Homo sapiens: one gene and its partners. The protein of the gene in region 4 interacts with the protein of the main gene of each other region in a pairwise test. Each region holds a gene or a part of one and is shown on either strand. Other genes may lie near its edges.

Region 1 (3,500 bases), on a different chromosome or scaffold from region 4:
GCAGTGGGCAGGTATGTGGATCATGGAAGAGAATGGAGAGCCTAGAAATAAACCCATACATCTATGGTCAATTGGTTTTGACAAGGGTGCTAAGATAACTCAATGGGGAAAGAACTGTTTCTTCAACAAATGGTGCTAACTGGATATCCACACACAAAAGGATGAAGCTAGACCTCTTCCTCGTGTCATACACAAAAATTGCCTCAAAATGGATCGCAGATCTAAACGTAAGAGCTAAAACTATAAAACTCTGAAGAAAAAAAACATAAGATACAGTTATTATGGAAAACCGTATGGAAGTTCCTCAAAAAATTAAAAATAAAACTACCATATGATCCAGCAATCTCATTACTGGGTATATAACTATAGGAAATAAAATCAGTATATTGAAGAAATATCTGCACTACCACGTTTATTGCAGCATTATTCACAATAGCTAAGATATGGATTTAATCTAAGTGTCCATTAACAAATAAATGGATAAAATAATGAGGTATATATACAAAATGGAATACTATTCAGCCATAAAAAAGAAGGAAATCCTATCATTTGCATGGATGAACCTCCAGAACATTATATTAAGTGAAATAAGCCAAGCATAGAAAGACATATACTGAGTGATCCCACTCATATGTGGAACCTAAAAAAGTTGATCTCATAGAAGTAGAGAGTAGAATAGTGGTTACCAGGGACTGGTGTGGTAGGAGGTGCTTTGAGGACATGTTGGTCAGGGGATACTAAATTTCAGTTAGATGGGAGGAATAGGTTCAAGAAATGTAGTGTACAACATGGTGACTATAGTTAACAATGCAGTGTATTCTTGGAAAATGCTGAGGATTTTAAGTGTTCTCACCACAAAAGTGGTAACAATGTGAGGTAATGCATATGTTAATCAGCTTGATTGGACATTTCACAATGTATATATATTTCCAAATATGATGTACATAATATGTATACATAATTTTGTCAATTTTTAAATAAATTTAATTTTTAGAAGAGAATAAAACATAGGAGTAAATCTTTGTGACCTTAGATTAGGCAACAGTTTCTTAGATATGACACCAAAAATCAAAAGCAACAACAACAACAAAAAAGATAAATAGCACTAAATCAAAATTAAAATCTTTTGTACTTAAGGACATTATCAAGAAAGTGAAAAGACAAGCCACAAAATGGAAAAAAAAAGTAAGTTCCATATATCTGATAAGGGACTTATATCTAGAATATATAAATAACTAATACAACTCAATAATAGCCAAAAAATAAAAGAGCAAAGGATGTGTACTGACATTTCTCCAGAGAAGATATACAAATAGCCAATAAGCACATGAAAAGATGCTCAACATCATTAGCCATCATGGAAATAAAAATCAAAGCCACCGTATATGCCAGTTTTTACAGTTACTACGATAGCCTAAATCAAAAAGTCAGATAATTACAAGTGTTGTCAAAGGTACTGTAGGGTGTGTAAAATGGTGCAGCCACTTTGGAAAACGGTCTGGCAGCTCCTCAAAATGTTAAACACAGGGTTACCATTTGGCCCAGCAATTCTACCACTAAGCTTTACCCAAGTGAAATTAAAACACGTTCACACAAAAACTTGCAAATGATCATTCAGAGCAGCATTTTTCATAATAACCATAAAGTGGAAAGAACCTAAATTTTCATCAACTGATGATGAGTAGATTAAAAACATGTGGTGTCATCCATACAATGGAATAGTATTCAGCCACAAAAAGGAATGAAGTACTGATATGTGTTATGACATGGATGAACCTGGAAAATATTACGCTAAGTTAAAAAAAGCTAGACACAGGAGACCCCATACTATATAGTTCAATTTACATGAACTATCCAGAATAGGTAAGTCTATAGAGATAGAAAATAAATTAGCGGATGCCTAGAGCTAGAGAGCATGAGGGGATTTGGGAGTAAAAGCTAAAGGGTATGAGGTGTCCTCTTGAGGAGATGAAAATGTACTAAAATTGATTGTGGTGATGGTTGCACAACTCTGTGCATATATTAAACACCAATGGAGAAGGAAGGAAGGAAGAGAGGGAGGGAAGGAAGGAGGGAGGGAGGACAGTTGACACAAAATACAATCTCCATAAAATAAAATCAAACAAGTCATTCAAAAGAAGCACAGTTATTACTGTTATGAAACTTAAGGGAACTTAATCTCATTGGTCCTCATTTAAAGAGGGCACCTTCTAACATAAAGAACATTATCCTCAACAACACAGCTGCAGTAAATTCAATGATATAATGAAGTCTCATGGGATTTTTTAAATAATGTCCTTCATGGTAGGCTAATGGCCAATAGTCAAAGCTCAGTAATATAAAAACAGTTCCATAAGGAGCTGTAACAATGTCCTAGATATGCAGCTCTCTAATGGTTTGGCTTAAGCCAAAGATTAAAATCAGAGTATCAAAAAGAACCAATAGGCCATATATCATCCCTGCAGTTCTCCCTGGATATCATTTTCTCCAACTGACTTTTGGTTATACTATCTGATATGGTTTGGCTGTGCCCTACCCCAATCCCATCTTGAATAGTAACTCCCACAACTCCCATGTGTCGTGGGAGGAACCCAGTGGGAGGTGATTGAATTATGGGGGCAGGTCTTTCCTGCACTGTTCTTGTGACAGTAAATGAGTCTCACGAGATCTGATGGTTTTAAAAACTGGAGTTTTGCTGCACAGGCCCTCTCTTTACTGGCTGCCATCCAGGTAAGATGTGACTTGCTCCTCTTTGCCTTCCCCCATGATTGTGAGGCCTCCCCAGCCACGTGGAACTGTAAGTCCAATTAAACCCTTTATTTTGTAAATTGCCCAGTCTTGGGTATGTCTTTATTAGCAGTGAAAACAGACTAATACACTCTCCTAATACCTAGAGTACTAACTTCTAGGTTATTACTTCTTCTTCTGTTACTGATTAAAGGCAGATCCAGGGATTCAGTCCTCCACTTTCTATTTTCATCCCAAAACACCTTCCACAGGCAATCCCATTCACTCCCACTGTCTCACGTGTGAATTCATTCACACATCCATTTACCACAATTATTGAGCACCTACTGTGGTGAGCATTTGGGATGTATCAGTGAACAGAACAGATAAAGATCCCTGGCCTGCTTACCAGCTACCGGGAGAAGAGTGTCAATAAACAAAGTAAGTGAATTAAATGGTTATGTTAGAAGGTGATATGCACTACAGGGGATGTGGGGTGTGAGGTGTTAAGGGAAACTGCGAACACCAGGTATGAGCCAGGAAAGTTGCAGGAAGGGAGGGTTGCAATTTTAAATAAGGCAATCCGGGTAGGTTAAGAAGGTAACACGTGAGTAAAGACTTGAAGGAGGTGAGGAGCCTGCCATGCAAACAATTGGAGGACAGCATACCAGGCAAAGGAAGAGCCAGTGCAAGTCCCCTAAAGTGGGAGCATCCATGCATGCATGGCATGCCCAAGAACAGCAAGTGTGGCTGCAGAAGAGGGGGTGAGGGAG
Region 2 (3,500 bases), on a different chromosome or scaffold from region 4:
TATCATCAATATTTTTAATGTTGGTCCAAATAAAAGGCAAAAGAAATGCTACCCTATTTTTTTTTTTAATATTTTTGATTAGTAGTAATGCTGAATACTTTTTCCTGCTTAATCTATTTGTTTATTTCTGGCTTGCCTGTTCAAATCTGTTGCCTATTTTTCCATTATAGCATTTATCTTCTTACTGATACGTGTTTTTAGTGATCTTTTGTTGATCATAATTACCAACTTTTTTCTTCACTTGTCATTTGGTTTTCAACTTTGTTTATGGTCTTTTTTGACCTGGGGGGTGGGGAATGAAATCTAATCCATCTGTCTAGGATCCACCCTCCTCAAGTACTCCACCATGGCTATTCCAGGACCACACCTTGCCTATGATTACCCTTTGCCTGGGATGGAATTAACATCACTGGTTAATGTTCCTGACTAGACTTTACCTTGAGCTGGAGAGCAACCTTGATAACCGACTTCCAAATGTATCTGCGTTAACCACACATACATGATCATGAAACATTCATAAGAATTCTACCTTTTTCTTTGCAAACGAGTATTTCTTTTTTGTACTGCCATCTAATTCTGCTTTAAGACTGCTGCTGGGATTAATAAGACTCATATCTTTTAAATCCAGGTCAGAAAATCTTAAAATGCAGTTCTCCAGGTCATCTCCTTGGTCTGGTGAAGTGGAAGAAGGCATCTGGTTTGGTTGCAACAGTGAAGCAGATATTCCTTTCAGTTAAATACCTCCTAGAATATAAATAAGAAAGAAGCAGCCATGCTATTCTTTGATTTCTTGAAGAAAATATGAAGCTAATCAATCACGCAAATCAGCATGGGCAAAGTAGCCCAAGCTAACCATCCATTTACTTACTAAATCAATAGTATTTACTTAGGAACGACTCGAAGTCAAGCACTATTCTAAGCACTGAGAATATAGCAGTAAACGAAAGTGAAAAAGTTTCTGCCTGCTTAGAGTTTACATTCCAGTGGGGTGAAGTAAACAAGTGGATAAATTGATTTTTTATTTTTAAAGTCAGATGGTGTAAAGGTTATGAAGAATAATCAGCAGGGTAGGGAGGCAGTGATGGAGAAGCCCTTCGAACACAGAGAGTAGGAAAAGCCTTTCTGCAGCAATAGCATTTGAGCAGAAACCTGAATTAGGGAGCGAGCCATGCAGTCATTAGGGTAAATAATACCAGAAAAGCAACAGGTACAACCCAAATCAATCAAGATGTGTGCCAGCACCTTCAGTTATAAACACTTTCTTCTTTTTGCCCCTTAATTTCAGAGCTATGAAAATTTCCTTCCTTAGAAGAAATAGTTCCCAAGACAGCCCCACTGTAATATGCCAGAAGAAATGTCAAAATCGCTACTGTGGCCAAATCTTGTCAAAATGGACACACTACAACCATCATACCATGTTGGTTCTTTTGTAAAGCAAAGGTGACAGGTGACAAGCACTAAGAGGCACACTGAGAAAAAGTATGGGCTTTGGTTTGTGCTGCAGCAGTTTGCCAAGCATGTGAACATGGGCAAGCTACTTAAGGTTTCTGAGTTCTAAATCTCTCTTGTGGAAATTGTGCATTGTAGTATCTACATTACAGTACTGTACTGTAGACTGGAAAGAAATATTAATATATAGTGTCTGGCACAAACTAGGGTTCAATGAATGGTAATATTATTAATATTTTAATTGAATGCTGTATTTTAAATTTAACATTAAAATTTTATTTAAAAATTAGCTGTGACAGATTATATTTTCCAAAAATGGCTGCAGCAGTATTTCTGGTCCATTTCCCTAAGCCTAGGCAGGCTTGTTAACTACTCCCAAAAATAAAGCGTGATGGAAGCAATGCTGTATGACTGAGGTTGGGTTCTCAAAAGGATACGCTAGTGCAAGCTCTCATTCTGAGATGCTCACGCTGAGGAGACCAAACCACTGTATTGTGAGTAAGCCAATCCAACCCATGCAGAGACCACACACAGAGAACCAGGTGGAGAGGAACAGAGGCCTCCAGCTGACAGCCAGCATCAACCACTAGACCCTTCAGATTCCAGATTGGCCTCTGAGCTGAGAGCAGAGACAAGGTGTCCCTGTTGTGCCCTGTCCAAATTCCTGCCCCACAACATAACAACTGGTTATTTCATATTACTAGTGAACTGGCAAAGTTAGTTTCTTCAGGACAATATTGAAGGAGGCAGCCAGAGGTGGACACTGAAGGTTCTGAAAATAGTAACATGCAAAGTAGTCCCAAACTCCACAAGAGGGAGCAGAAAAAGCACCACTAAGAATGAGAGAAAGGAAGGTGGGAGACACTGGTGACAAACTTTGCCAATTCACAACTCTGCCTACAGGGTACCTCAACCAGGTGAAGGCAACAAGGAGCAGTTTATGTGTGGGGGAACACACACTGCTTGTTAACAATGCTGGATAGGACTGATGGAGACTAAACATACACAGACACACACAGGCAATACCAACTTTCTTATAAAGGACCTTTGTTCCTTGGATTCATAAATTAAGATGTCACTTGCACCACATAAAATGCATTTGAATCAGCTAAGTGGTGCTTTCATGGGGCTCAAAATGAGCTTTGTTATAAGGGTAAGGCAAGGTAATACAGATTTATTAAACCTAAATTCTCTTGTATTTGAAAAATAAGTGGAAGAGACTGGGTGAAGAAATACTACCTTCTTTAGCTTCTCTTTCCTTTCTCATGAAAATGTCTTTCATATAAAGTCCCACTGAAAAAAGTACATCCCTAACTCTACACAAACCTGTAAGCCTTCCAGGCAGAAGTAAAATAAGTAGAAGAATCTTATTCAACACACTTCCTCCATGCTCAAAGCTGTTTTATTGTAAAGGTAGAGAAAGTACATATATCATTTCCAAATTAAAATTCATTCAACAAATATTTATGGAGGGTCTTCTAGGTTCCAGGCATTGTTCTAGAAACAGATAACTTATTTACCTATAAGGGCAGTACATTTGGGAGGTAACATTGTCGAAAGGAATTACTATCCAATCCGGTCCCACCTCCAGCATCTTTTCCAATCTCCCTCTATATGACCTGATGTAGTCTGTCCCAGCATTTATGCTTTCCACTGCTTTGTTTCCCTTACTTTTTCACTTCTTTCCCTCCCCATATGCTTACTATGTATATGAAGACTGAACTCAAGTGTCACCTTTCACTTATGTCTTGTCTGCTACCCTGTGTCACTGCTTCCTTTGAAGGCCTGAAAAACTTAGTTTCCCTATACTCTAGGCTCATCTCTGACTATGCTCCCCATTCCCCATCAGATATCCTACTCTAGCCACACTGGACCATGCCCAGTTCCACAAATGAGCCATGTTCTTTCCTGACTCAAGGTCTCTGCACCTGAGTGTGGGGTGCCTTTCCCACCACCCCAAAATGATCTCCTCCGACTCTGCATCTTTTTTCAGTCTCAGCTTATTTTGATTTATGTACATACTCTGAATTATTATTATTTGTGGCACCTCT
Region 3 (3,500 bases), on a different chromosome or scaffold from region 4:
AACATCCCTTTGCTTTGGGACTCTCTCACATCTGTGTCCCTAAGAAACAGCAAAACTTCCTATGTTTGTAGGATTTTTAATGTATTTTATTTTTAATATGGTATGTATAAAACATAAATTTAGAAAGTAACTGTGACCTAGTTTTTCATAACTACAACATCACATACATCCAAATGCCCCTTCCAGGAAGGTACAGATCTTAAAAACACTGTCCCTGCTCAAAATATCATCTGTGGTGGCAGTGGATCTTTATCCCTCTTGGAGTGGATTTGATTTCTACAAGCAGCCAAAAATCACTGTGGGCCATATCTAATAAGCAGGTTGGGTAAATAAAGCCATGAAGTACAATTTTTAGTCAAAAATCAATTATATGGGCTGGGCACGGTGGCTCACACCTGTAATCCCAGCACTTTGGGAGGCCAAGGCAGGAGGCTCACAAGGTCAGAAATTTGAGACCAGCCTGACCAACATGGTGAAACGCCATCTCTACTAAAAATACACACACACAAAAAAATTAGCCAGGTATGGTGGCGCACGCCTGTAATTCTAGCTACTCAGGAGGCAGGAGGATCACTTGAACCCGGGAGGTGGAGGTTGCAGTGAGCCAAGATTGCACCACTGCACTCCAGCCTGGGTGACAGAAAGAGACTGTATCTCAAAAAAAAAAAAAAAAATCAATTATATGGCAATAAGGTTCCTTTACTGCATGGCTCATAGAAAATGGCTCTGAAGGCCACTCAAAAATGAGGAGAGCTCATCACACTCCCCTGTGACGGCGTTTCTGGGAGAGGCTCCAGGCCTCTGCTTGGCCGTTTATCTGGCATGGGTGCCTTCCCCCAATTCCCTGCCTACTCATCCTGCCAGGCTCAGCTCAAGCACTGTTTCCTTCCACACTCCCTCCCAGACACAAGTCAGGATTCTCCTCTCAGAGTGCCCACAGCACTCTGCCCAGACCTTTACTCCAGCACCAAACTTCCTCCCATTTCAACACCTTTAACCTCTTCTAGACTCAGAACTTCCTGAAGTCACTTCTTATTTCTGCAACAGCTCTGAATTTTGCTGTTTGCTATCAATCAGTTCCTGTTTTGTAGTTACACTGCGTAATTTCTCATTTTAATCATTTTTTTAATCAGTAAGGCATATTTCAAACATCTGACACATACTGCACTGCAGTTTAAAAAACAAAACTTTCCAGGCTGGGTGTGGTGGCTCACGCCTGTAATCCCAGCTACTCAGGAGGCTGAGGGAGGAGAATCGCTTGAACCCGGGAGGAGGCGGTTGCGGTGAGCCGAGATCGCGTCACTACACTCCAGCCTGGGTGACAGAGTAAGACTCCGTCTCAAAAAAAAAAAAAAAAAGAAAGAAAGAAAAAAGAAAAGAAAGAAAAACAAAACTTTCCATAGTAGTTTGCATTAGACAATAACCACAGGACAAGTGGTAAGCATAAAGTGTCTAGAAGGCAGGACTGTTTTGTTCCACCATAAAATCCTTTTACAACTGACCAGCCTCCTCCCATCAACTGTATACAGTGATGTAATGATTTCTATCAACAAAACTTTTAAAAATAAAAAGATCAATTTTAAAATCAAAAGCTTTGTTTAAAAGTAAAGCCTTAGGAGCCAAAGAGAAGCACAACCCTCAAGTGGCATCACCACTCATGACCACGAGACTGCCGTGTCCAGAAGTGCAGGGGGTGCCCTGCATACGGCACTTGGCTGAAGTTTGCATGTTGGGGCTAAAACCAGTTCCTGGGCCCTGGCAGGTGGCTGCCTCCACCCAGAGGAAGGGGTGGCTTTTCCTTTGCAAAAGGCAACAGTGTGGGCTGGCTGTGGCTCTGACAGGAAGAAATGGGGAAATCTCAGAGTCAGTTGGCATGTATCTCCAGTCCCAACTTTTAGACTTCTTTTTCCCATCAGAAAAACCTCCTTCAGGTTGGATTATCAAAGCCAAATACCCCCCTAGCCTCTTCATTCTCTCCCTGCTAGTAAAGCAGGGGAAAATCTAGTATCTTTGGTTGTGTAAGCCTTTATTTTCTGGATATAGAATGAAAGTCTTCATTGTCTCAATAAGGAACTCCAGCTTGCCTTTGCATGTCACTGAGGTGTGACATCCCAGAAATCACACAGGTAGTGATCTGACCCCAGAGATGGTCCCCTGCTCTCTGGGGATACGGACATCAAGTTCCTCTGCCTTTTACTTCTCCCAAGATCAAAACTCAAGTCCTTACAATGGCCTATAAAACCCTTAGGTGACCTCGTCCCTTTTCTAGTGCCTCTTTGACCTCATATCCTTCCGCTCAGCCCTCCTCAGTCCACTCTGACCACATGACCTCAAACGTGCCATGCACCCTCCACTTTGCGGCTGTGCACTGGCTGTCCCTCAGGCCAGCATGTCCTTTCTCTGGACAGGCTGGCTCATGTCTTCACCTCTTTGACCTTTGCTCATATGTGTCTTTCTCAGTGAGGCCCACTGGGGCCACCTATTTAAAATTGCAACAGGCTAGGTGCAGTGGCTCACACCTGTAATCCCTGCACTTTGGGAGGCTGAGACAGAGGATCCCCTGACCCCCAAGAGTTCAAGACAAGTCTGGGCAACAAAATGAGACCCCGTCTCTTTAAAAATTCAAAATAGGTTGGGCACGGTGGCTCACACCTGTAATCTGGACACTTTGGGAGGCCAAGGCGGGGGAATCACAAGGTCAGGAGATCGAGACCATCCTGCCTAACACGGTGAAACTCAGTCTCTACTAAAAATACAAAAAATTAGCTGGGTGTGGTGGCGGGCGCCTGTAGTCCCAGCTACTCGGGAGGCGGAGGCAGGTGAATGGTGTGAACCCGGGAGGCGGAGCTTGCAGTGAGCCGAGATCGAGCCATTGCACTCCAGCCTGGGCGACAGAGCGAGACTCCGTCTCAAAAAAAAAAAAAAAAAAAATCAAAATATTAGCCAGGTGTTGTGGTGCACACCTGTAGTCCCAGCTACACAGAAGGCTGAGGTGGGAGGACTGCTTGAGCCCGGAAGGCTGAGGCTGCAGTAAGCCATGTTCTTGCCACTGCACTCCAGTCTGGGTGACAGAGTGAGACCCTGTCTCAAAAATAAAATAAAATAGTAACAACACTCCAAGCCTGCTGTATTCTTAAATTTTTCAGTAACTCTTATCACCTTCTAATATTATATAATGTTGAATATGTTTGGTCTAATAACTTGATTGCTTATTATACTTTTAATTTGTCTCTCTCCTCCCCATTAGAATGCAAGCTCCATGACAGCAGGGGTTTTTTATATCTGTTTTGTTCACTGATGTATTCCAAGAACCTAGACCAATGTCTGGTACCTAGCAGAAGCTCAGTAAACAACTGTAGAATGAATAAATGAACTTCCCTCTTTATATGGTTATGCTGGCTCCTTACTGAGTTGTAACACAAAGAACAGCTTTTTGCAATCTGACATCTCCTTGGCAACCAGCTTCTTCTTTTTGATGGAGTCTCACTCTGTCACCCAGG
Region 4 (3,500 bases):
ATATGCATCTGAAATGATTCTGCATCATGGCTGCTCCATGCTAAGCCGATCTCCGTCGTGCTGACCACTGTCACTCGGAAGTCAGAAACTGGAACAGGGGCTATGCAAAGAAAGTAAACAACTAGATTAAAAATATACTTCTCCAGGAGACAGGGATGCCCCACCTCAGAAAATACTGAGATGAAATGTACACTTAGGACACCTGATCCCTCTCTCTGTCTTCTTTGTATCATCACCTACAACATGAGCCCCTCAGAAACTGCTGTTTCTGGCCATGGAGAGAGCACTTGATCATGAGAGTGCAGAAGCTCTGTGCTTACATTGCACACAATCATTCACAGGAAATGAGAGGAGGCGTGAGCTCCTGTGGTCAAGGGCTCAGGCTCTGGAGGAGAACCTTGGCCACACTGGCTGCTTTATCTCGAATGCATTACTAGCCTCCCAGAGCCTCTGTTCAGGGAGGGACAGCAGAGAGAGACCAGTCTTGACCCCCAAAATCCATTCCCCCATTTTCCCTTCATCATACCCACCCAGATTTTTAGCCCTGTGTGTGCATACCTGTTGGAAACAAAGACCACATTTCCCAGCTCCCATGGAGCTAGATGTTGCAATGTGACTAAGTTTTGCTCAACGAAGCATGAGCAGAGGTACTGGGTGACTTCTAGGAAGTGTCCTTTAAGGGTGGGGCACAACCTTCTGCCCTTCCTCCTTCTTATACCTGTAGTGTGGATGCAATGACTGGAGCTCACGCTGCCTGGCTCTAGAACCAAAACCTCAGCGGTGGCTGCAGCTTCCTGATCCCAGGATCACAGCTCAGAACATAGACCCCTGGATCCCGCAACTACAGCAGAGACTTCCTGATTCCTCCCTCTGCTGTCTGTGACCAAGGTGGTGACTCTCCAGGGGGTCAGTTCTGCAGACTTAGTCCAGGAGTCATTTCTTGGGGCGAGGCCTAAAGCCTGCTCCTCAACTGTTATGAGCTGACTTGTGCTCCCTCACCCCCAAATGTGTATGTTTATGTCCTAACCCCCAAGACCTCAGAATGTGGCTGTCTTTGGAGACAGGGTCTTCAAAGAGGTAATTAAGTTAATGTGAGGTCATGAAGGTAGGCCCTAATCCAGCAAGACTGGTGTCCTTATAAAGGGAGATGAGGGCATAGGCACACGCAGACTAAGGACAACCATGTGAGGGAGAAGACAGTCATCTATAAGCCAAGAGGGAGGCCTCAGAAGAAACCACACCTGCCGTTGCCTTAATCTTTGACCTTCAGCCTCCAGAACTATGAGAAAGTCTATTTCTGTTCAAGCCACACAGCCTTTGGTACTTGTTCTGGTAGCCCTAGCAAACTAATACACCAGCTCTTCCAATGATTCTGCAAAACCTCAATTCCCAGGATAAATCCCTTTTGGTTAAAATAGCTCACAGTTTCTGTTTCATACAACTGAGCCTTGGATAACCTCTATCATCCCCATCCTGCCTAGCACTGGGCTTCTGTTACAGGAGAGAGAAATAAACCCCTGTCTTGTTTAAGCCACGGATACTTGGGTTTTGTTGTTGTTGTTTTTGGTGGTGTTATTCGTGGCTGAACCTAATCCTAACTAATAAATAGTAAAAGAGTAAAAGGTAAAGAAATGCAAGCATATTTCATTTTCCCAAAGATCCAGTCCAAAATACATCTATAAGAATGCTAAGGTGTGCTTCCTGCGAAGGAATGGACATTCTTGTGGGATAAGCCTGGGTCCAGAGCCACACACCCCTGAGTTCAAGTCCTGCTCTGCTACTCACTAGCTCTGTGGCTTTGGGCAAACTGTTCAGCCATCAGGGTGTCATTTCCTCATCTGTAAAAGGGGACCCCAATACCTACCTCGGAGGCCACTACAGTGTCTATAAATCTCATGGCACAGTGCAAAATGCAGTGCTGGTGTCACTACTATTGTTTAATAGTATATAATCAATATTATACCACTGTACTACTAGTGCACCATTACTGTTTTATTTTACATTATCGGACCTTCTTTGAAACCTAAAGCTTTTTATTTGCTGCATAAAATCTTATTTTTAAGGGACATTTAAACAAACAAAGATGAGATACAGCTGTGCCAGTGATTCGTTATAATGTCAGCACCCAAGACACAAGGGGATATGAATACCAGGTCATTTTTGTCTCCCTGTATCAATTCACTCTAGGTCTCCTCCACACTGGAAAGAGAGTTACAAGCGCAGGCTCCAGGTGAGAAATACCAGAGGCTTAATCTCACCTCTGCCACTTTCCAGCTGTGATACCTGTCTAGCACCTCTCTCAGCCTTGGCTTCCTATCTATAAAATAAGGCTACTTCCAACCACATCACAGGGCTGTTGTGAGCATACAATGTGCCAGTGCAAGGAAAGCATGTCACACGAAGCTTGGCGTGTGGTCAGCCAACAGTCACCATTACTACATCATGCATCCTGTGTCTGGGCCTGGCACGGAGCAGGACAGCAGGAAAGGGTGGTGAGAGCCAGGCATGAACTCACGGGTGTGCACTTGGAGGAAGCCCGGCGTGCCCTCGATGTCACCTAGGACAGGACACACTGTGATGTTGTAGAAGGTGCTGGAGCGGAGTCCGGGGATGACAGCGCGAGGCTCACTGACGTTGAGATTGGAAGAATCTGTCTCCCCCGCCACATGTATCTTGTAGGTATAGTTAGATGACGACTCGTTATCGCTGACTTTCCAGATCAGGGTCAGGCTTGTGGCACTGATGTTCACAGCGGTGACGTCAAAAACCTGAATAGCATCTGTGAGAACACAAGAGGAGTTCAAAATAACCAGAACGGCCAAGGCAGAGGGAGGGAGAGGTCATCAGGGCATGCTGTCAAGCCCAGCAAACTCTCCTGGGGGAGTGTTCCTTCCTCCTCTGCACCATCAACCGTGGCTAGGAAAGCATGACGGTCCCAGCCAAAGTCAGGCATCATTGGGCGGTGAAGAAACAACCTGGCCAATGGCACCTGCAGGGTTATTCTTTGTTCCTTTTTGTAAGTTGACTTTAGAGATTTGACCTAAATGATGACTTGGACTCTATGCATGTCTTACCCTAGGGCCAGGGGCACCCAGAAAAGTTGTCAAACACACATGATGCAAGAGCGAACACTGCGATCTATGTGATCGCCCGAGATCACAGAAGTCAGGACGAGGCAGGCCTGGGTTCCAGGGCTCACTCTGCTATGACACCCAGGTGGGCCACAGGAAAACCACTTGAGCTCAGCTTCCTCACCTATAAAACTGGAGAGCAATCCTAACCTCAAGAAAAGATAACCCGAGTGCCAGTTATTCACCACCTGCCCACTCCACCCTCCCGACATATCCACTGCCCTTCCCTCACCTGCTCTGGGCCCAGGAGGCTGACCTTGTGCAAGGCATCATGGGGGGTCTTGCCACATGGGCTGTGACCGGGTTCCACTATGAGCCAATGGGCAGGCCCCTGAAGGGCCACAGGAGAAAGGAGTCAGTGCCTTCCTC

Evidence for each region. Proteins that work in one complex are often made in the same cells at the same time.
Region 1: the proteins of PTPRJ (region 4) and TMEFF1 interact in a two-hybrid assay, tested with the Homo sapiens proteins (one large-scale study listed by BioGRID).
Region 2: the proteins of PTPRJ (region 4) and TSTD2 interact in a two-hybrid assay, tested with the Homo sapiens proteins (one large-scale study listed by BioGRID and IntAct).
Region 3: the proteins of PTPRJ (region 4) and TRMO interact in a two-hybrid assay, tested with the Homo sapiens proteins (one large-scale study listed by BioGRID and IntAct).

Annotation. Positions count from the first base shown.
Region 1 is NC_000009.12:100,567,149-100,570,648, reverse strand, and holds part of TMEFF1 (tomoregulin-1 precursor), read right to left. Parts: intron 1-3,500.
Region 2 is NC_000009.12:97,626,869-97,630,368, forward strand, and holds part of TSTD2 (thiosulfate sulfurtransferase/rhodanese-like domain-containing protein 2), read right to left. Parts: intron 745-3,500; 5' UTR 695-744; coding exon 530-694; intron 1-529.
Region 3 is NC_000009.12:97,905,501-97,909,000, forward strand, and holds part of TRMO (tRNA (adenine(37)-N6)-methyltransferase), read right to left. Parts: intron 1-3,500. UniProt on the Homo sapiens protein: S-adenosyl-L-methionine-dependent methyltransferase responsible for the addition of the methyl group in the formation of N6-methyl-N6-threonylcarbamoyladenosine at position 37 (m(6)t(6)A37) of the tRNA anticodon loop of tRNA(Ser)(GCU).
Region 4 is NC_000011.10:48,127,059-48,130,558, reverse strand, and holds part of PTPRJ (receptor-type tyrosine-protein phosphatase eta isoform 1 precursor), read right to left. Parts: intron 2,780-3,500; coding exon 2,516-2,779; intron 101-2,515; coding exon 1-100. UniProt on the Homo sapiens protein: Tyrosine phosphatase which dephosphorylates or contributes to the dephosphorylation of CTNND1, FLT3, PDGFRB, MET, KDR, LYN, SRC, MAPK1, MAPK3, EGFR, TJP1, OCLN, PIK3R1 and PIK3R2. Plays a role in cell adhesion, migration, proliferation and differentiation.